3 linked regions of the Homo sapiens genome follow. The protein of the gene in region 1 purifies or fractionates together with the protein of each later gene. This does not show direct contact. Each region holds a gene or a part of one and is shown in the gene's direction. Other genes may lie near its edges.

Evidence for each region. Proteins that work in one complex are often made in the same cells at the same time.
Region 2: the proteins of BFSP2 (region 1) and TRIM11 purify together in Homo sapiens (co-immunoprecipitation; 3 studies listed by BioGRID and IntAct, with this or other methods). This does not show direct contact.
Region 3: the proteins of BFSP2 (region 1) and TRIP11 purify together in Homo sapiens (affinity purification with mass spectrometry; 2 studies listed by BioGRID and IntAct, with this or other methods). This does not show direct contact.

The regions. Positions count from the first base shown.
Region 1 is NC_000003.12:133,465,703-133,473,538, forward strand, and holds part of BFSP2 (phakinin), read left to right. Parts: intron 1-1,125; coding exon 1,126-1,257; intron 1,258-6,642; coding exon 6,643-6,863; coding exon of another isoform or gene 6,864-6,867; intron 6,868-7,836.
Region 2 is NC_000001.11:228,403,836-228,411,443, reverse strand, and holds the start of TRIM11 (E3 ubiquitin-protein ligase TRIM11), read left to right. Parts: upstream 1-4,608; 5' UTR 4,609-4,882; coding exon 4,883-5,290; intron 5,291-7,608. Other genes in the region: E3 ubiquitin-protein ligase TRIM17, read left to right, coding at 268-498, 2,033-2,055, 2,169-2,272, 2,693-3,243.
Region 3 is NC_000014.9:92,030,060-92,037,059, reverse strand, and holds part of TRIP11 (thyroid receptor-interacting protein 11), read left to right. Parts: intron 1-3,806; coding exon 3,807-3,868; intron 3,869-7,000.

The DNA.
Region 1 (7,836 bases):
CTCCTGGTTTGAGGGCGGTATGGGACAACTGGCACTGTCTTACAATGCTGAAATGGATTTCAAGTTTTCCGAAGGGAAATTTGCCACTATTCACCAAAATTAAAAATATATACCCTTTCTAATCAGCAGTTCTACTACAAGAACTACTTTCTCAAAGACATGCTCTTGTATGAAAAATAAGGGATCAAAGCTTTTTCTTTGCACCATTGTTTGTAATAGAGAAAGAAAGACTAGAAACAATCTGAGTGTCCACCAGCAGAGACTTCTAAATACATTGCAGCCCTTCCAAACAAGACAACACTGTGCAGCCGCTATAAAGAATGTACTCAATTTCTATTAGGTTGGTGCAAAATTAATTGCTGTCTCTGCCATTGAAAGTAGTGGCGAAAACTGCAATCGCCTTTGCACCAACCTAATATGTACTGATATAGAATAATTTCTAAGATACTTTAAGTACCAAAGCACGGGGGGGGCAATACATATTTATTTATAAATATATAAACTATTTCTGGAAAGAGGAATAAGAAACTAGAAACAAGAGAACTGGATAATTAAGACACAGGAGAAAATGAGACTTTATAGTCTGTAGGAAATCTTTTGAATTGTATTTCATTTGCAGGCATCGTATGTTCAAAATAAATACATTTTTGTATACAAGTTGGTGAAGGGACCTGTTTAAAAAAAAAGACATTTCCAGCCAGGCGTGGTGGCTCACGCCTGTAATCCTAGCACTTTGGGAGGCCAAGGCATGCGGATTACCTGAGGTCAGGAGTTCAAGACCAGCCTGACCAACATGGTGAAACCCCATCTCTACTAAAAATACAAAAAAAATTAGCCAGGCCTGGTGGCGGGTACCTGTAATCCCAGCTACTCGAGGCAGGAGAATCGCTTGAACCCAGGAGGAGGAAGTTGTGGTGAGCTGAGATCGCACCACTGCACTCCAGCCTGGGCTACAGAGCGAGACTTCATCTCAACAAAAAAAAAAAAAAAAAAAAGATGTTTCCACGTGACAGCTGTATTTCCTCTGGTTAGAGGCAGTGGAGTGGTGATTAGAAAGGCTGGGAAGGAAGGATGGGCTCAGATTTCTGATCATCACCGCTCACACTGAGACCTGACTCTCCACAGCAACAGGCGGAGGTGGCCCACATGTCCCAGACCCAGGAGGAGAAGCTGGCAGCTGCCCTCAGGGTGGAGTTACACAACACTTCGTGCCAAGTCCAGAGCCTCCAGGCTGAGACAGAATCCTTACGTGCCCTGGTAAGTGGGCCAAGGAAAGACCTGGTGTCCTTGTGCTAATTTTAACTCTCTACTGTCAAATTCCAGTATTATGGATCTTAGTTTCCAGGGGATTCCCATCTCACAGCATATGAGTTTTGAGGCCTGAAATGTCTTCTGACTCCCAAGGATCATCAGATACTGAATCACAGCAGGTGCAATAGACACTGTAGTGCCCCACGGAAATATCTCTTACCAGGCTGCTGCAGTAAATGTTGACTGTTAACATCTGCAGCCGCCCCTTTTCAGCTGCCCCACTGCTCCAGAGACCTGCCCTTACCCACACTGAGGACACCTGGCCCAGAAGGTTAGGCCCTGCCCCCCAAGGCTCAGCCAGTGACTAAGAGGGGGCTTTAAAATTAAAAGCCCAGCCCTTTTGCTTCAACATGGAGCTAGCTCCATGCTATAGAGCTCTCCATAGGACCAGGCTGTAGCCAGATTCCAGAGACCACATCCTCGCTTAGTGCCTTCCTCTGCCCTGTCCTGCTTTCCTCACTCCCCCTTTTCCTGAGAGTACTCCTTAATGATTTGCGAGTTCCAGGATCCCTAACTCAGGCTCTGCTTCTGGAGAACCCAACCTGAGACATCTAGTAAGCTCTCAGACTCACTGGGATTTGCAAGCTCGTCTCTTTCATTATTAATTATTTATTAAAATATTAAAATAATAAAATGTATTAATAATGAAGCAATCCACCCTCTGATCTCTGGAATGGATTGAAGTTCTATTTGGGTATTAAACATCTTTTCTTAGATGTCCCCTCCAGGAGGTCATTTGCATTGTTCTAACTACAGCTTCGTTGGTGCAAATCAAAGGTTGGTCCATGTAATCCTTGTGCAGCTGAGATGGCCTGGAGTCAATGAGGCGCATGATAGGATGTAGGTCCGTGCAAGCATGTATAAGAAAAGGATCTGAGGATCTGAGGGGAGGAAAATCAAGAGTAATAGAGTCAGAAGGGCTCAGCTCCTCCATTTATCCCTTGGGTAAAGAGGCAAATCCCTGAACCACAGTTTCCTCTTCTGCAAAATGGGTATGATAGTCACAGTCCAGCCCACTTCTCAGTGTTTCTAGGGGGATCCAATGTGTGGATGCACATGAGCATGCTCTTCTGACTCTTAGCATTATTTTGAGAACTTGCTATGTTCCTAGAACTGTACCAAGTGCTTTGGAGACATAAAACTAATGAGATATGGTCCCTGCCTCCAAAGAGTTAATGTGGCTTCGGTGGAGGAGCTGATACAAATGTGAGGGAGGGGCAGATGGGAGAGAGCACCCCTGCTGTGGGAGTCAGGAGGTAGACTTCGTGGTGGGTGCTCTCCTCACTCACTAGCTATGTGAATGAACAGCTTTCATTTTCTCACTTGTAAAGTGAGGATCTATTTTGGCTATCATATCTAGTTACTGTCTTAGTAGCTTAAGACAACAGTGAATCACTTGTTCTCTCATTCTGTGATTTAGGCAGAATTCAGCAGGGATAACTCTTCTCTGTATCATGTGGCCTCTGCTGGGGCTGGAACACCCAAAAATGGCTTCTTCATTTAGCTTCTCTGGTGACTCAATTGTGCATCTCTTTTTCTCTCTCCCTGTGACCACTCCGTGTAGCTAGCTTAGACCTCCTCATATCATGACAGCCTGACATAGTCAAACTTCTGATATAGCACCTGAGTGAGCACAGAAGCTACCAGGCCTCTTAACACCTGGGCTCGAAAGTCTCTGGACATCACTTATACCACATTCTAGTGGTCAAAGCAGTCACAAGACTATCCTAGATTCAACAGGGAGAGAAATAAATTCAACTTCTTGATGAGACAATGGCAAGGTCACATTGAGAAAGCGATTGTGGAGTGGAGATAATTGTTGTAGCTGCCAATGCAAGTGTGAGCCACTTTAGGATCGTAATAGAATTTACCTCATAACGTCATTGAGATGATTAATTTGATAATGTATGTCAAGCCCTTAGCACAGTGCCTGGCAGTTAGTGAGCAGTCAATAAATGCCATCTATTATTAATTATCATATAAAATTGCTATAATAGCTACTAGTACAGTAACTCCAAGTTGGCATCACCAGCCACCTGGTCACCTCACTTAAACCCAGGGTCCTAACCATTGGGGAAAAAAATGGAAAAATAATTTACACTCTCAACCAGAAAACTTCAGAGTAGTGCCATTCTGTCTATGCCCATAGCCCAGAACAGGCTGCCTCTGTTCCCTGCTGGTTCTAGTAGATTATCGTTCTGGTCACGGGGCCTTGCAGCCAAGGTGAGGAGCACAGATTGGGACAAAATAGGTAACAAACTCTCATACAGTTTTCAGATACAGGAAGTTCATCCAGCCATTCCTGTTATTCTGTCAGAGCGATCTGTGCACACACAAGGCCCCCGCAGCTTATATAAGCTTCAGACAGCCAAGCTGGCGAGACTTTCGGCCCCCTTTGCCAATAAGGCACTATTTGCATTGGAAGCTAGGCACAAATAATGGTGCTTGAGACCTGCTGAACTCTGTGTCCAGTCAACTCAAATCAGGAATGGAATTCAAGGCCAGAAGTCACAGAAGGTCACTATTTTACTTTCTGGAGGATTTTGCAATCCCAGAAAGTCCCTTCAAATCTCCAGAGACCTGCAGAATAAGTGTGCTTCTGTGATCTCAGCTTGTTTGCTGGTGCTGTCTGCGTGGCTGACTGAGCCAGTGTACTTGCCTGCAACAGTAGCCTGATCATAGTCACTCCAGCTCAAGCATCTCTGGGAGAACCAGGCATCCTCTCTTTCTGCCATAATGTCAGGGACTTAGGTGGGGAAGCTGGATTCGGACTTTAAGGGTGAGATGGAAGACACATATAACCTTTGGCTGGGGTTCCAATGAATGCCCTGTTGGCAGTGGGTCCTAAGTCACCATGGAAAAACCTCAGGCCACATGAAGAACTCACCTAGAAGATGGAGCAAAAACTATAGACAGATGATCCAACCGTGATTCTGTGAAGCGTGTTCCCAAATCACAGATGTTACAAATCCAATGTCAACAACAACTAGTCACAAGTTAAGTACTTTCATGCATAAACAAAGAGAGAAAACCCAGGGAGGTTGGAACAAATGATGCTCAAAGTCAAGGTGGCCATTTCTGCATCCTCACTGCTATAGAAAGGTTTCCAGATTCTATTAGTTAAATAATAACCCTAGACCAGATACTGATCTAGATTTATTTTCTAGTGATCACGTTTTGCCTCTTATAAATATGCCTCAGACAGATGAGAATCTGACTCAACATTCTCATATCCTATGGAATTAAGAAGATTTAAATAAGGTAATATGGTGATCCATGCTAACAGCAGTCATGATTCAAGATGGTGTCGTGACAGAATTTTCTGTTTCATCCATAGTGGTCATAAGGGTGTAAAAAGTCTCCTCCTGGAGGACAGGGTACAGAAACTTGTTGCATCAAAATTTAATTCAATCCAATTTAGAAAGATATTTGTTTTTTGTGTGTTATATTAAAAAGCCAGATGCTAAAGTATAGGTGAACCATAGTTAAAACTATTGGAAAATGTTGAACACAGATACAGTTTTTTAAAGGGGTTTATTGATTAGCTCTGTAGTTTTCAGGACATGGTGCATGGGAAGATGAGAAGAAAGAAGTTTCCAGTCTAATGGGGAGACATAGATAGTGCAATAAGTGTAACCATAATACAAGTGCTATCATCCAGGGCAATCTACACATACCAAGAACCTATTCTGTGCCAGGCCCTGACTTGTGTGCTGGGACTACAGAGACTTGGTTCCTTCCAAGTCTCACCATCTGGTGGAAAAGACGTGCCCATAAGCAAGCTTAGCCCACTGTGATAAGTTCAAGAGCATGCATGAGCTTGGGGAGCCATGGAAATACAGAGGGTCTCCTAACCCAGCTTGGTGATGGTAGCGGCAGAGGAGTTTCAAGGAAGGCTTCCTGGGGCAGGTTACCTCTAAGCTTGGACTTGGGGATGAGTAGGAGTGAGTGAGGTGAGGATGCTGGAAGGAATGGAGGAGCATGGTGCAGGTGGAGGAAAGAACACAGACCAAATAAACTCCAAGACTGGAAGTGTTGATGCTGCTGTAGGGTGGGGATAAAGATGGAAACATACTGGGCCAGCTGTGTGTGCCATATCAGGGGCCCTGGGGAGCCATCAATGGAGTTTAAGCAGAGGAGATACAGGCCCAGGTTTGGGCTTTGGACAGAGTACTGTGGCTATTTGTGTGTGGAACTCAGGAAGAGGAGGAACTAGAGGTGGGGAGATGAGCTAAGAGGCCACTGAGGGTACCACAGGTGAGAGGTGACAAGCTCCCAATCCCAGACCATGGTGGCTGCAGAATGTGAAAACTTCTCAAGAGATACAAGAAGCAGGACTCATAATATACAGGAGGCCATGATGGTTGCATTTGGAAGGAAGAGAAGGAAGGAAAGCAGGAACACATCTTTCCCTGGTTTCCAGCTCACATGGGTTCACCCGTTGAAGCATAGACTAGGGGGAGCCAGCAGGTTCAGGAGGCAGCCAGTGGCTTCATTTTGGACACCTTGATGTGAGGTCTGAGTATATGTTTCCAGTAAGAAGTTCAGTGGCAGGTCCATAGCTACTGAAGGAAAGATTGGTGGTGGAATTATCAACGCAGGACGTGGCCTGGAGACGACTCATGAGTATGTTCAAATCATGAGTATGATGGAGACCAACACAGACCCAGGATGCGCTCCTTGGAAAAAAAGCGGGCTCAGGGTGGGCACTGGGAAGCCCAAAGTGAAGGGACGGCAGAGGAAAAGGGATGGGCAAAAATGTGCTACTAAAACACCAAAGGGGAAAGCGCTGAGTATATAAAGGCCAGAGACATTCATTCTAAGGACAGTGATCTGGGAAAGAAAGCTGGAGGAGATGGTGTTCCAGCCAAATGATGGATGGGGTTTCAGCAGCAGAGGGAGAAGGGGTCCCCCGGGGAGTGAAGAAATCAGAAGAAAAAGCCCCGGAGAACAAGATTTCTTTGAAGAAACGCCTGCAAGCTGCCTCTCATTTGTCTCTCTCAATCCCTATCCCTCTTGCCCCGCTCCTCTCTCTCCTCACACCCCCTTTCTTTTCTCCCTCCCTCTCTCCTTCTCTTTTTCGCCTCCCTCACCCTCTCTCCCATCAAAAAGATCAATCAGACTAATCCACAGTCTGACCTGAGTGGGATTCCTTATTTTTCCCACGGAGCCACTAAGAATAACCCCCATCAGTCTCCATAACTGGCAAGGTCCCTGCCACGAGGGGAATAGTCCAGGCTACCACCAGCCCCTGCCACTGCTCTGCACACCTCCCTCTTCAAGGGCCCGGCCTGTTGTCCTCGGGTTTGGACCGGGTTCGCTCTTTTGTAGAAACGAGGCCTGGAGAACACCTTGCACGATGCCAAGCACTGGCATGACATGGAGCTCCAGAACCTGGGCGCTGTGGTCGGCCGGCTGGAGGCGGAGCTCAGGGAAATCCGAGCGGAGGCGGAGCAGCAGCAACAGGAGCGCGCGCATCTGCTGGCCCGCAAGTGCCAGCTGCAGAAGGACGTGGCGTCCTACCACGCCCTGCTGGACAGGGAGGAGAGCGGGTAAGCCTCGCTTCCGCGTCAATTATCCAAGAGATGCATATTCATGGCTTTAAAAATAATTATTTTCCAAACACTGTAGAAGTATTTAAGAAGAAATCACCCCAGACTTCCTCTCACATAGGCACCCATTCCCACAGCCTAGCTGTGTCCTTCCTTTCCTATTCACATACAAATAATATATATAATATATTCACATACTAATACATTTTCTATATGTATGCATATTTATGTATGTATATATACACACATACATTCACATACATGTGTATACCTAGGACGTACATAATAGCTGTTAGGAATGTTTCAGTTGCTTGTAATAGAACCTAATTAATGAGGCTATAAACCAGTGCTCCTGAAACTAATGTGCACTCAAAACCCTGCGCATCTTTTTTTTTTTTTTGGATACAGGGTCTCGTCTCGGTATGTTGCCCAGGCTGGTCTCGACTCAAACCCCTGGGCTCAAGTGATCCTCTCACCTAAGCCTCCAGAATAGCTGGGGTTACAGGTGTGAGCCGTGACACCCCAGCTGGGCATCTTTTTTAAATGCAGATTCTGCTTCAGTACGTCTGGGGTGGGGTCTGAGAGTCTTCCTTTCTAACAAGCTCCCAAGTGATGACTATACTGCTGCTCCACAGACTACACTCTGAGTAGCAAAGATGTGTAAATCATTTATTTAAGAGTCCCAGAAACAGGTGATCTAGGCTGCTCAAAGATTTCATTAAGGACTCAAGCTCTTTTCATCTTTCTAACATACCATGACAACATTGGCTTTTTGTCTTTATCTTTGTCACCCCATGGTTACCATATGCCAGCCACAGATCCAAACATCACATCCTCATTCCTGGCCGGAAGTGGGAGAGAAGAGGCAGCAGCAAAAAAAAAAAAAAAAAAAAAGGCTTTTTCTTTTTTTTTATTGATCATTCTTGGGTGTTTCTCGCAGAGGGGGATTTGGCAGGGTCATAGGACAATAGTG
Region 2 (7,608 bases), on another chromosome or scaffold:
TTATCTGGGGGTGGACATTCTGAACCTCCTCAGAGCAAGGGTGCATGGGTGTTTGGATGTGTAGAAGTTGCAGTTCGGGGCTCGGAGGGTTACACTCAGTGTATCACAGGATGGCAGAGGTGGGGGCCTCTGTCACAGTTCCTGGTCCCCAACTAAAGCTCCAGTTGCTGGTGATCTTGTGGGTCACCAGGGCCCTGGGGAGAGGTGCCAGCATCCCTGGAGCTGAGCCACCTGCTGGCAACATGCTGGGCTTCTCCACTCCTGCAGGGCAAGGTGAAGGAGCGGAGAGAACGCATTGTGCTGGAGTTTGAGAAGATGAACCTCTACCTGGTGGAAGAAGAGCAGAGGCTCCTCCAGGCTCTGGAGACGGAAGAAGAGGAGACTGCCAGCAGGCTCCGGGAGAGCGTGGCCTGCCTGGACCGGCAGGGTCACTCTCTGGAGCTGCTGCTGCTGCAGCTGGAGGAGCGGAGCACACAGGGGCCCCTCCAGATGCTGCAGGTGAGCCAGTAGGCTTGGCAGGCAGGGTGGGATGTGAGCTCTGACAGGCATGGGCAGGGGGCGCTGGGCTTGGGGAAGAGGCAGCCAACGGGAAAGGGCTGTTAGCTCCCAGTCTGCTAGTCCTGGAGGCTGGGTGGCTGAGGCCAAGGTGCGGGCAGGCCTGGTTCCTCCTGAGCCTCTCTCCTAGGCCTGAAGATGCCGTCTCCTCCCCGCGTCCTCATGGCATCATCTCTCTATGCACGTCTCTGTCCTAATCATCTCCTTGTATAAAGACACCAGTCAGACTGGATTAGGGCCCACCCCAGTGACCTCAACTCCCTCCTTAAAGATGCTATCTCCAAACACAGTCACATTCTGAGGTCCTGAGGGTTCAGGCTTCAACCTGTGAATTAGTGGGGACACAAGTCAGCCCCTTACAGGTTCCAACCTGAGACAGTGTCCCCATTTCCTTCCAAGTCCAGAGAGGTGGCTTGGGACACCTGGCAGCCAGGTGTGGCTTTGGGACAGGGACTCCATGTCTCGGTGTGGAGGAGGTGCACTGTCCCAGGAGTGAGTTGTGTGGCAACGGCAGTGGGGAGGTGAAGCAGCCAGCCTGTCTGCCGGGACCAGCCTGTGTGCCATGGCCCTGGAGAGGGGGCTTGATTACGGCTGATAAGACGCCATCTCTACAAAAACTTAAAAATATTAGCAGGGCATGGTGGCGTGCGCCTGTGGTCCCAGGACTCAGGAGGCTGAGGCAGGAAGACTGCTTGAGCCCGTGAGTTCAAGGCTGTAGTGAGCTATTGCGCCACTGCACTCCACCCTGGGTGATGGTGAGATCACATCTAGGAAAAAAAAAAAAAAGGAAAAGGAAAAACAAAGCAGCCTGTTCACAACCCACTACATTGGTTTGCTGACCAACTGAGGGAAAAGCCCCTGCAGCTGGTAGAAGGGTGCTCCTATGAGCAGAGGGCCAAGCGCGCCACCTGCATGAGAGTCCCTGCCTAGAGTTAGGGTCACGCTCTGGCAACTAGAAATATGGCCTTTGGAAAACAAGTCCCTTGTAGCTTCCAGGCCAGAGAAGTAAACAGTGATCTCTTTAGGGAACTCTGAATCCCTAAAGAGGCTACAGAAAATCCCCAGGTGCCTCAGTCTCTTACCCACCCCCCTCCCTCCCCAAACTGCACCCAATTGCGCCCCCACCCCATTCCTGCTGAGTGGGCTGCACCCACCTGAAATGGGAGAGGAGGGTCAGTGTTGAGTGGCCACTTGCCTGGAAGGGGTCCCTCCGCCTCTCCTGAGTTGCAGGACCTCAGGCGTGTGGCCGTGGGCTGACAGGGTAGCTCAGCTTAGGTGAGGCACTGGGGGCTCTGGTGGTAGTGGGAGCTAGGGCAGTGGGGAAGGCTCAGGAGTGCCATGAAGCTCAATTGTGGGAAGGGAATGCCCAGGGGACAGGATGGGTCTTGCCCTAAGACACGGACAAGAAGGGAGCAGGGACATTGAGGTGAGCCAGGAGCTTGGCTCACTCCCCACCCTCCGTCCCTGTCTTTTGCAGGACATGAAGGAACCCCTGAGCAGGTATGTGGTCCCCTCAGGCAGGGGCGGGGGCAGTGGCAGCGGTGGGCGGGGGGGACAATAAGACTGTCGGGCCAGGGGAGTCAATAAGACTCCCCTGTGTGTGCCCACCGGAGGAAGAACAACGTGAGTGTGCAGTGCCCAGAGGTTGCCCCCCCAACCAGACCCAGGACTGTGTGCAGAGTTCCCGGACAGATTGAAGTGCTAAGAGGCTTTCTAGGTAAGTGGGCACCCAGGGCCAGGACCTCTGACCCAGGATCTCTTGGCGATGCCCCACTGTACCCCCTAGCCTCGGAAGCCACCAATGGGGGGGGTTCTACAAGTGCACTGCCTGGTGACGGTCACTGGCTATTCACTGTGCCTTCGTAGGGCGGCGTTACTGGTGGTTCTAATTCATGGGATGAATCTTGTTGAGTTCCCAGTGGTCTCTCTGCCCAGCCCCCTGTACCTTATTGCCACCAAGGCCCACACACAATTGGTGTGTGGAAGCATCAAGTAACCCCAGATTCACAGCAGGGGAGGCCTCTGCGGAGTTAGGGGACCATTGGCCACATCCACCACTAGGGCCCGGGGACTCCCACCTTTGACCCTGAATGCCCCACACCTCTCCCCATCTCTCCACCACCACGCCCATCTACAGAGGATGTGGTGCCTGATGCCACCTCCGCGTACCCCTACCTCCTCCTGTATGAGAGCCGCCAGAGGCGCTACCTCGGCTCTTCGCCGGAGGGCAGTGGGTTCTGCAGCAAGGACCGATTTGTGGCTTACCCCTGTGCTGTGGGCCAGACGGCCTTCTCCTCTGGGAGGCACTACTGGGAGGTGGGCATGAACATCACCGGGGACGCGTTGTGGGCCCTGGGTGTGTGCAGGGACAACGTGAGCCGGAAAGACAGGGTCCCCAAGTGCCCCGAAAACGGCTTCTGGGTGGTGCAGCTGTCCAAGGGGACCAAGTACTTATCCACCTTCTCTGCCCTAACCCCGGTCATGCTGATGGAGCCTCCCAGCCACATGGGCATCTTCCTGGACTTCGAAGCCGGGGAAGTGTCCTTCTACAGTGTAAGCGATGGGTCCCACCTGCACACCTACTCCCAGGCCACCTTCCCAGGCCCCCTGCAGCCTTTCTTCTGCCTGGGGGCTCCGAAGTCTGGTCAGATGGTCATCTCCACAGTGACCATGTGGGTGAAAGGATAGACACAGACCGGGGGACTCGGGCACTGCTCCTGGCTCTGCAGAAGGTGTGGGCCTTCTGCTTACTGCAGGCCACCTGCCAGGGTTCTCTGGCATCACGCTGGCAGCCATTAGACACACAGGGGGGTTTCTCAAATTCTAAATATAATTGTGATTAGAACTGTCAAACATTAAGAGGGTATACTGACAGATGCTTCCTAGAGGAAACTTTTGAAAGCCCCTGCGTTCTGAGTGGACCGATTTCTAAATCCATACCTACACACCAGGAACAGCGTGGTCACGTTTTTTTTAGCCATGCCCCCACCCCCACTTTGGAATGACAGGAATCTGTGGCTCCCAGCCCCCCCAGGGGTTTAGGTTACTCTGTCAAAGAAGTAGAAATATCCTATGGTGGGGAGGAGCGGGGGTGGTTGCTGTGTCAGGGATGGTCCCAGGCTGCCCATAGAAATGTCCTATGCATCCTATTGGGTCCTTCGATGGGGGAAAATGGGAAAGGCTGAACCCGTAAAAAGCCTCAGAGCTGCCCACCCCCATCCCGTTCGATCCCCAAAGTTGCACGAGCAGGGGCAAAATCCCAAAGAGATTAGGATTTATGTAGGGGCCTCTTTTCCACAGCGCCCTTACCTTTTCCAAGGAACCCCCCACCCACCCCTGCAGGGTCAAGCACTTTAACAGCCTGTGTCAGTCACTAGCAAGGCAGAATTCCAGAGTAAGCGTACTCCTACCTCGACAAAGCCGGAGTGTCTGCGCGAGGGGCTGCCTGGAACAGCATGCCCCTTTGGAGTGGTTCCCGCAGAAAGAATGTGGGCCTCCTGGAGAGCTGGTCCTGGAGGGATGCCCCCGTCCCATCCCCCAACTCCAATCATTCTGACCTTGGCCTGCCAAGGCTGTGAGGGCCGGGCCTTCCGAGGATACCCGCCCTGGGAAGCACGGGCTGAGGGGGTGAGGACGCACTAGGGGTATGGCGAAGGGCTCCAATGCCCCAGGCTGCGGACTCCCTTAGTCCTTGCAGTTGCTTCCGTGTGCCCCGCCCTGAGTCCCCATCCCTCCTTGCCCTGCCCCCTGCTCCATCCCTCCCCTGCGCCCCGCCCCCTGTCCCCATCCCTCCCCTGCGCCCCGCCCCCTGTCCCCATCCCTCCCCTGCGCCTGAGTCCTCCCCAGGGCAGGGGTAAAAGACCTGGCCACAAGAACCGGAGCGGTGGTGACGCCAGGTCAGCAAGTGAAAGCTCTCCAATTCCGTCCCGCCCGCGGGCCGCGTGACTGGCAGCGGCCAATCGGAGGCAAAAGCGGGTTGTTCCAAAAAAAAAAAAAAAAAAAAAAAAAAAAAAAAAAAAACACACAAAACCCACCCAGTCGCTTCCTGCTTCCGCCTCGGCTCCTCTTCCTGCCGGCATCCGGGATCCCTACGTCCCGCGTCCCCCGAGCGCTCGGAGCCTACGCGCCCAGCGCTACCGAAACCCAGAGTCCTGCGCCCTGGAGTCCCCGCGCCCCGGAGCCCGAGCACCCGGGAGTCCCGAGCCTCGCGCCCCGGAGTGCCCGAGCCTGCGCCGCCGCACCCGGATACCCCGCGTCCCCGCGAGCTGCCGAGGCCGCCCGCCGCCGCCCCGCGGACAGTACCGCCTTCCTCCCCTCTGTCCGCGCCATGGCCGCCCCCGACCTGTCCACCAACCTCCAGGAGGAGGCCACCTGCGCCATCTGCCTCGACTACTTCACGGATCCGGTGATGACCGACTGCGGCCACAACTTCTGCCGCGAGTGCATCCGGCGCTGCTGGGGCCAGCCCGAGGGCCCGTACGCGTGCCCCGAGTGCCGCGAGCTGTCCCCGCAGAGGAACCTGCGGCCCAACCGCCCGCTTGCTAAGATGGCCGAGATGGCGCGGCGCCTGCACCCGCCGTCGCCGGTCCCGCAGGGCGTGTGCCCCGCGCACCGCGAGCCACTGGCCGCCTTCTGTGGCGACGAGCTGCGCCTCCTGTGTGCGGCCTGCGAGCGCTCTGGGGAGCACTGGGCGCACCGCGTGCGGCCGCTGCAGGACGCGGCCGAAGACCTCAAGGTGCTCCTGGGCGGGGGTGGCGTGCAGGGGCGTCGGGGAGCCGGGGACTGGGGAGGCCTGGGCGGGTGGGAGGTTTGGGGGACTGCTCCGGGAGTAATCTGTCTCTGTCTAGGGCGGGGAGCTCAGGATGCAGCCTGCTGTGGGCCTGTGAGGGGGGTGTCGCGCAGGGTGGCTGTGGGGGCTCATGACACAGCCTGTTTCAACCAGGCCCCTTGAGGCTGGGACCATGGCCGCCAATGAGACCCTGCTCTCGGGGGTGAGGGGCGTACCTCTCATAGATAGAGGCTAAGAGAGGAAGGTGGAAGGTGGAAGGTGGTGGAGTGGGGGCAAGGAAAATGTGGCCATACCCTGGCCAGCAAGGAGCTGGAATCAGAGGAAAGTGGGAGAACCTCAGAGGTGGCCGATCCTAGATGGACTCCCTGCAGGGACTGTGTTAGCAGGTCAGTACTTAAGTCCTGGGAAAGCCCCAGACTGGGCAGGATGAGGGGGACACAGTCGTTTCCTCTCTAACCTCCCCTCCAGGGCTGCCCTGCATTTCTGGGTGGGGTACTGGGAGCCATCTCTGCCATCTGAGATGCCAGGGCTCAGCCTGCCTTTTCTCCCCTTGTCTTGCTGCTTAAAACCCAAATAAAACCCGAGCTGAAGGGCCTGGGGCACACGTTCCCTGGCCTGCGCTCCCTCCCGCTGTCCTCTTTCCTCGCTGACCTGCTGCAGGTGTGCTCCTGGGAGCCTACGTGTGGGGCAGATGGCAGCATCTTTGGAGCTTTCTTGATTGCACTTTGTGTGTTGCATCATGGTCACTTGTGTGTGCCAGATGAGCAGTTAAGGCAGTGTTAGAATCAGTACTGAGCTTGATCTGTCCCTATCACAGAGCAAACTTCTGGGATACTAGAATAAATCTGAATCTGTCCCCTTCTGCTTTGGATTTTAGCAGAAAGGTGGTTTAGAGCCATATCCGTGGGCTTGTTCAGACACAGATTCATTTGGGTTTTCTTTTCTTTGCCCATGCAGGAATGTCTACACCTGAAACATGTTAGCCCAGCAGAATTACCCTTGTGACACCAATTACCCCAATGGGTGCAGAGAGTGCCCAATAGCTCTATAGAGTTGACTCGATATAGTTTCATGGGATAGCACTTAACCCTTTCTTTTGCAGGTGAAGAAAAAAATTTCCCTCTACCCTGTTAGGTTCAGTGGCTCAGGGCTGCAAATTAAACTGGCACAAGACAAATTAACAGGAAAAAAAATCATACAATTTGATTAATATTTTAAGTTTCACATGCACAAGAACTTCATAGAAAAGCGTATTTCAGCAAAGGTTTGTGAATTGTGGAGAAGTGACTGGACACAGAAATGGGATTGGGCGTCTAGGACTGATAAATTGTGGGAAAGTGACTAGGAAATAGATGGGAAGAATTAACACAAGATAATGGTCATTGTAGTAAGGTCTGTTTAGGCAGAATCATCTCCCAGGATTAGAGTGCCCTCCTCTTCCTGGTAGAGAGAGGGTGCCTTTCTCATGGGGAATGAATACCCTACTTTTAGGCAGATAGGAGTACAGAGAGCTCTTCCTGCATCTGCTTTTACTCAGAATAATTCTTGTACCACAGCGGTATATTTGGGGATGACATCCTGTTCTTCACTGCCTTAGAGCCTAGGTTATGTTAACCACAGCAAACTGCTTTTACCTGCCCCCATGGGCCTAGAAAGCTCAGTCCCACCTATGGGGCTGTGTGTCCACTTGCCAGAGCTGGGGCCCATTAGCTCCATGACAGGTTCACTCCTTGCCTGGCCCTGACCTGGGGTCATGACAGCTGAACAAGCCCCAGGCTGGGTTGCCCCGAGGTGGTAAACAGGGAAGTCCCAGTAAGCTCCAGTTCCAGGAAGCAGCACCATGGGAGAGAGAAGATGGCCCCCAGATCTCTCTGGGTTGTGTGTCAGATGGCACTTGTGTGGGGAGGGGGTTTGCCACAGGAAGGAGGAGGCCAGGGAAGATCCCAGGCCTGCACCAAGCCCCAGCATCCCAGTTCTGACTACACGCAGGGTAAGAGGTTTCTGTTCTGATCTGGCCAGAGACACAAAGATGCAGGTACCTGAAATGCAAGATCTTTGCCATGCTGGGTATGTTGTGCTGCTTTACAGCCCATTCCATCTGATCAAATGCTGTTTGTAACCTTAGTGTTGAAAACTGAAAACGTTGGCCAGGTGTGGTGGCTCACGCCTGTAATCCCAGCAATTTGGGAGGCCGAGGTGGGCGGATCACCTGAGGTCAGGAGTTTGAGACCACCCTGGCCAACATGGTGAAATCCCATCTGTAC
Region 3 (7,000 bases), on another chromosome or scaffold:
ATTGATTTTGTAAATTTTTAAAAATAGGGGTCTGGCCAGGTGTGGTTCATACCTGTAATCTCAGCATTTTGGGAGGCTAAAGTGGGAGGATAGCTTAAAGCCAGGAGTTGAGGACTAGCCTGGGCAACATAGGGAGATCTCATCTCTACAAAAAGTTTTTAGCTGGGCATGGCTGCATGTGCCTGTAGTCTCACCTACTTGGGAGGCTGAAATGGGAGGTTTGCTTGAGCCCAGTAGTTAAAGGCTCCAGTGAGCTGCGATTGCACCACTGAACTCCAGCCTGGGTGACAGAGACGACCCTGTCTAAAAAAATAAAGGGAATGGAGGGTCAGAGTACAGTTCTTTTATTCATTGAACAAGTATTTATTAGTGTTTACCCTGTGTCAGTAATGAAAAATAAAACAGTTCCAAAATAGCACTATGTGGACAACTTGAAAGCCATCCATATTTACAATATCAGAAGGTTGCAGTTTTACCTAACACTACTGATTTATTCAAGGTTAGGAGCTTGGGCTTTTAAATCAGAGAGACATGGGTTGAAATTCTGCTTTTGTGCATTACAAGTTGTGGGATTTTTGGCAAATTATTAGAAATTAACCTCCAAAAGCACAGTTTCCTTATATGTTGAATAGGGATAATCATACCTATTGTGAGGTTGAGAGGATTAAATGAAATCATGAGTGTAAAATGCCTGGAATTGTGTCTACCGAATCGTAAACATTAATGAATGGTAAATGTCATATTTGCCCTTATTGACAAAGTCAGAATATTTTTGTCTGCATAATATCTCCCCTTTGTACTTAAAAAGGCCAAGTTTTTCTTGTTGGGGGAGGTGTGGAGTTTGCATGGACTTGTAAAATCCCTCTTTAAAATAGTTGCTGCTTTTAACAATTACCTTCCTAAACAAATTAGATTATAACTTGTCCTCTTCAGAGTAGCAATTAAACAGTCCTTTCATAGTTTCAAGCAAGATGTACAACCAACCACAGATGTAACCCTACCTGGTGATTTTCTAAACAAGAGTGTTTGTCACTGTAATTACTGCATGCTTCTTTTGATTTAAACCAAGCTTGTCCAACCTGTGGTCTGCAGGCCACATGTGGCCCAGGATGGGTTTTGAATGAGACCCAACACAAATTCATAAACGTGCTTAAAATGTTATGAGTTTTTCTGGCTGGGCGCGGTGGCTCACACCTGTAATCCCAGCCCTTTGGGAGCACTTTGAGGAGGGCCTCAGGATCACCTGAGGTCAAGAGTTTAAGGCCAGCCTGGCCAACATGGTGAAACCTCGTCTCTTTACTAAAAAATACAAAAATTAGCCGGGCATGGTGGCGCAGGCCTATAGTCCCAGCTACTGGGGAGGCTGAGGTGGGAGAATCACTTGAACCCAGGAGGCAGAGGTTGCAGCGAGCTGAGATTGTGCCACTACACTCCAGCCTGGGCGACAGAGCGAGACTCTGTCTCAAAAAAAAAATAAATAAATAAATAAATAAAAAATGAGGTTTTTTGCGATTTTTTTTTTTTTAAAGCTCATTAGCGATTGTTAGTGTATTTTATGTATGGCCCAAGACAGTTCTTCCAGTATGGCCCAGGGAAGCCAAAAGATTGGACACTCCTAATAAACTGTAGTCCAGATAAGTTATTTTTATATTAAAGAGCTGTGAGTAATGAAAAAAATACTAGTACTTAGAAAAAAAATCTAACTCTGGATGATGATTTTCTTTTCTTTTCTTTTTTTTGAGACCGAGTCTTGCTCTGTCGCCCAGGCTGGAGTGCAGTGGCACGATCTTGGCTCACTGCAGCTTCTGCCTCCCCAGTTCAAGCAATTTCTCCTGCCTCAGCCTCCTAAGTAGGTGGGATTACAGATTATAGGCACCTACCACCATGACTGGCCAGTTTTTTTTTTTTTGTATTTTTAGTAGAGATGGAGTTTTGCCATATTGGCCAGGGTTGTCTTGAACTCCTGACCTCAAGTGATCCACCTGCCTTGGCCTCCCAAAGTGCTGGGATTACAGGCATGAGCCACCGAGACCAGCCAGATGATGATTTTCTAACAGCATTAGTGGTGCCATGTTGACACTGCTGGGCTCTCACTCTACTTTTAAATGAAAATGTACAAAACCAAGGGCCATGCATGGTGACTTACACTTGTAATCCCAGCACTTTGGGAGGCTGAGTGTGGAGGATTCCCTAAGGCTAGGAGTTCGAGACCTGCCTGGGCAACACAGTGAAACCTCATCTCTCCAAAAAAGTAAAAAAATTAGGTAGGTGTGGTCGCATGTGCCTGTAGTTCCAACTACTTGGAAGGCTGAAGCGAGAGAGTTTGAGGCTACAGTGAGCCATGATCACACCACTATACTCCAGCCTAGGTGGCAGAGTGAAGTGAGACCCTTTCCAAGAAAATTAAAAAATAAAGATGAAAATGTAGAAAACCAGACTGAGCTCATTCCCATTTTTAATAAATTGTGTCTATGTTACTTTAAATAAGTGTTCTCAGTGTATTTTTCTTCGTTTATAGGTCACTTATTATTTGATAGTATTGAGAGCAGAAGTTAGTGACAGAGCAGGAGCACTGTTGTTATCTCAGACAAACAGTGCCACTTTAAGTTCCAGCTCCCTTTCCTTTTTTTTTTTTGGAGACAAGAGTCTCACTCTGTAACCCAGGCTGGAGTGCAGTAGCACAGTGTCGGCTCACTGCAACCTCCACCTCCCAGGTTCAAGCAATTCTCCTGCCTCAGCCTCCTGAGTAGCTGGGATTACAGGCGTGTGCCACCACACCCGGCTAATTTTTGTATTTTTAGTAGAGACGAGGTTTTACCTGTTGGCCAGGCTGGTCTCAAACTCCCGATCTCACGTGATCCGCCCACCTTGGCCTCCCAAAGTGCTGGGATTACAGGCGGTGAGCCACCGTACCTGACCTCCAGCTCCCTTTCTAGCCTCATGCATTTCAAGGAAGTCACTTCTCTTCTAACTACAAGCAGCCAGAAAAAGCAGACAGTAAAACACATACAGAGGGAGTGCTCGGGCACAAAGGGAGGTGGGGGTAAAGTCTCTTGGGTAACTGCCAAACTTCACTCTCATACAGTGGGCCCCAGTAAAGCAGTGGGCCTTAGAAAGCACATTCCTTTCCCTTCAGGTGCACTAAAATAGGGAAGCTAAAGCAGACTCGGGGGGTATGCCTGCAGCTCTAGAATAAATGGAACAAATACACAACTCTCCCTCCCAGATAAGCACTACAAAAAAACACAGAAGCAGTCTAAGCCTCTAATAAATTCTCCCACCCTAAATCCTTAAAAACTCTTAGTCTGGAAAAGAGTGTGCCTCTAACCTAACTCAGCCGAACACCCCTCTCAGGTTTGTTTTCTCTAAAATAAACCTGTCTTAACTGGCAAGCCACCCTTTGTGTTTCTCTCCTCTTTCTTTAATTCTTACAGTTAGAAATAAGGCCTAAAGCCCCAGTTGAGTAAGCTTCATCTAAAATTATAGCAGCATTAGCCCACAGAGAAATAGTTTTAATTTCTAAAGCTTAATTTCCCACAACAAAATTCTAATGAACATTTCTAAGGGGTAAAGGTAGACATCCTAAGATACAGGGCATAGGCAAAAAGAATGACTTTTATGACAATGAAGAACATTAGTGTCAGTGAAAAGTTGTTATGGAAATAAAGCGATTTGTTTCTTCTGAATGCTTTCATATCAGCCTACTATTCTGTGTAAACTCAGTGAAATATATTTTCTTGAAAATACCTATTTATTACTTCATATGGTATTGATTAAATATTCAATATTTGTTATTTCTCTTGTAGCAGAATTACCTGATTCTAGGACAAAGGAAATTGAAGCCATTCATGCAATCTTGAGATCAGAGGTAAGAAAAATCAAAGACTACTTAGATTTTTCTTTTTTGAAGTCATGAAGGTTACTCAAACATTACTTTGATCCTTTCTTTTTAAATGTACTGCTTAGCACTTTTTTTCTCTTCTTGTTTAATTTTGATTGTTTTTTGAGCTTTTATCAACCTTCTGTAGATGAAAAATATATTTACCTGTTACTGCAGTTTGCTATTCTTTAATATTCCCATCTCTATTTCTGTATAAGTAGGAAAACTGCCAAATGTAGAAATAATAGTATCAATAATTTATCATAATCCAGAGTTTACTGTGTTCTAACAGCATACTAAATTGCAGTGGCACATTTATTTAAGAATAATTTTTTTTTTTTTTTTTTGAAACGGGGTCTCACTCTGTCACCCAGGCTGGAGTGCAGTGGCACTATCTTGGCTCACTACAACCTCCACCTCCTGGGTTCAAGCAATTCTTCTGCCTCAGCCCCCCGAGTAGCTGGGACTACAGGTGCACGCTACCACACCCAGCTAATTTTTGTATTTTTAGTAGAGACAGGGTTTCACCACATTGGCCAGGCTGGTCTCAAACTCCTGACCTCGTGATTCACCCGCCTTAGCCTCCCAAAGTGCTGGGATTACAGGCGTGAGCCACCACGCCCAGCTAAGTATAATATTAAGAATGCAATTCTGTTTAACCTGGAGCTTTTTAAACACTAAAATGATAATAATATTTGGATACAAAAAAGTTAAGAATATAGGAATAGCAGCCAGGCACAGTGGCTCATGTCTGTAATCTGAGCACTTTGGGAAGCCGAGGTGGGTGGATCACTTGAGATCAGGAGTTTGAGACAAGCCTGGACAACATGGTGAAACCCCATCTCTAACTAAAAATACAAAAAAATTAGCTGGATGTGGTGGTGCACACCTGTAATCCCAGCTACTCAGGAGGCTGAGGCAGGAGACTTGCTGGAAACTGGGAGGCGGAGGTTGCACTGAGCCGAGATCACGCCATTGCATTCCAGCCTGAGTGACAGAGAAAAACTCCATCCAAAAAAAGAAAAAAAGGATACAGGAATAGCAAATTAATTTTAATGTTTTATTCATTATTAGGGTCTAGATTGGGCGCAGTGGCTCATGCCTGTAATCTCAGCGCTTTGGGAGGTGGAGGTGGGAGGATGGCTTGAGGCCAGGAGTTTGAGACCGGTTACAAAAAATAAAGATAAAAAAATTAGTCAAGGTGTGGTGGTGGGTGTCTGTAGTCCCAGCTACTTGTGAGGCTGAGGTGGGAGGATCACCTGATCTTAGGGCCCAGGAAGTCAAGGCTGCGGTGAGCTGTGATCCTGCCACTGTATTCCAGCCCGGGCAACAGAGTGAGACCTTGTATCAAAAAAAGAAAAAGACATTTTAATAATTTAAATACAGCAAATCCAAATTTTTATTTAATTTTTTTCTGGTTTTGAAAGCATAAAGACTCAAAATAAGCAATGTTCTTTGAATTCAGTGAACTGCTTTTTAACCCTTAATTGTATAACCTGGAATATCTTTATCTTGTAAAATATTGATTCCAAAGTTCAGTTACCTCTCTAATAGATTTCAGGTTATTATTACTTCTAGTTCTTTTCGTTGTGGTTGTTGCTTTGAGACATGGTCTTGCTTTTTTGCCCAGGCTGGAATACAGTGGCACAGTCATAGCTCACTGCAACCTTGAACTTCTGGGCTCAAGTGATCCTTCTGCTTCAGCCTCTTGAGTAGCTGGTACCACAGGCATGCAACACCGCACCCAGCTAATTTTTAAAGATTTTTTTGTAATAGGCCAGGCACGGTGGCTCATGCCTGTAATCCCAGCACTTTGGGAGGCTGAGGTGGGCAGATCACTTGAGGTCAGCTTGGTCAACATGGTGAAACCCTGTCTCTACTAAAAATACAAAAATTAGCTGGATATGGTGGTGGGCGCCTGTAATCCCAGCTACTTGGGAGGCTGAGGCAGGAGAATCACTTGAACCCGGGATGTGGAGGTTGCAGTGAGCCAAGATCGTACCATTGCACTCCAGCCTAAGCAAGACTCCATCTCCAATAAATAAGTAAGTAAGTAAGTAAATAAAAAAATAAATAAATAAATAAAATTTTTTGTAGAGACGATGTCTTGCTCTGTTGCCCAGGCTGGTCTCAAACTCCTGGCTTCAAGCAGTCTTTCCACCTTGGCCTCTGAAAGTGCTGGGATTACAGGCATGAGCCACATGCCCAGCCTGGTTCTTGATTGTGTCATTAAAAGCAATACTTTTGAAAATTTTAATGGCTCATGATTTTATTGAAGAGATGATGGCTGTCATCTTTGCTCTATAATTTCAAAAGCATGTTTATTCTTAGATTTATAAATGCCAATTAGAATGATCAGTCCACTGAGTTTTTTTCATTTCTGTGTCATCTGTTTCCTCCCAGTTGCCTTTGTGTACACACCTGCTTTCAGCCTTCTACATATGAACATATCAAGTAAATGTTGGTGTACAAATATACATGATGAAAGAATACTGTCACATGGCCAGGCATGGTGGCTCACGCCTGTAATCCCAGCACTTTGGGAGGCCGAGGTGGGTGGATCACCTGAGTTCGAGACCAGCCTGACCAACATGGAGAAACCCTGTCTCTACTAAAAATACAAAATTCGCTGGGCGTGGTGGCACATGCCTGTAATCCCAGCTACTTGGGAGGCTGAGGCAGGAGAATCACTTGAACCTGGGAGGTAGAGGTTGCGGTGAGCCAAGATCCCACCATTGCACTCCAGCCTGGGCAACAAGAGCGAGACTCTCAAAAAAAATAAAAAATAAAAATAAAAAAAGAATACTGTCATGTATCTGCTTAGCAAAATGAAATGGTTTAAGTCCTTGTCACAAAATAATGCAGAGTGAAGTATTTTCCTGTTGAATGACTAATTGATCTGAAAGCCATATTTCTTTTTTGTTCTTAAAAATATATTATTCACTCATCAATTCTTTTTTTTTTTTTTTTTTTTTTGAGACGGAGTCTCGCTCTGTCGCCCAGGCTGGAGTGCAGAGTGCAGTGGCGGGATCTAGGCTCACTGCAAGCTCCGCCTCCCGGGTTCACGCCATTCTCCTGCCTCAGCCTCCCAAGTAGCTGGGACTACAGGCGCCCGCCACT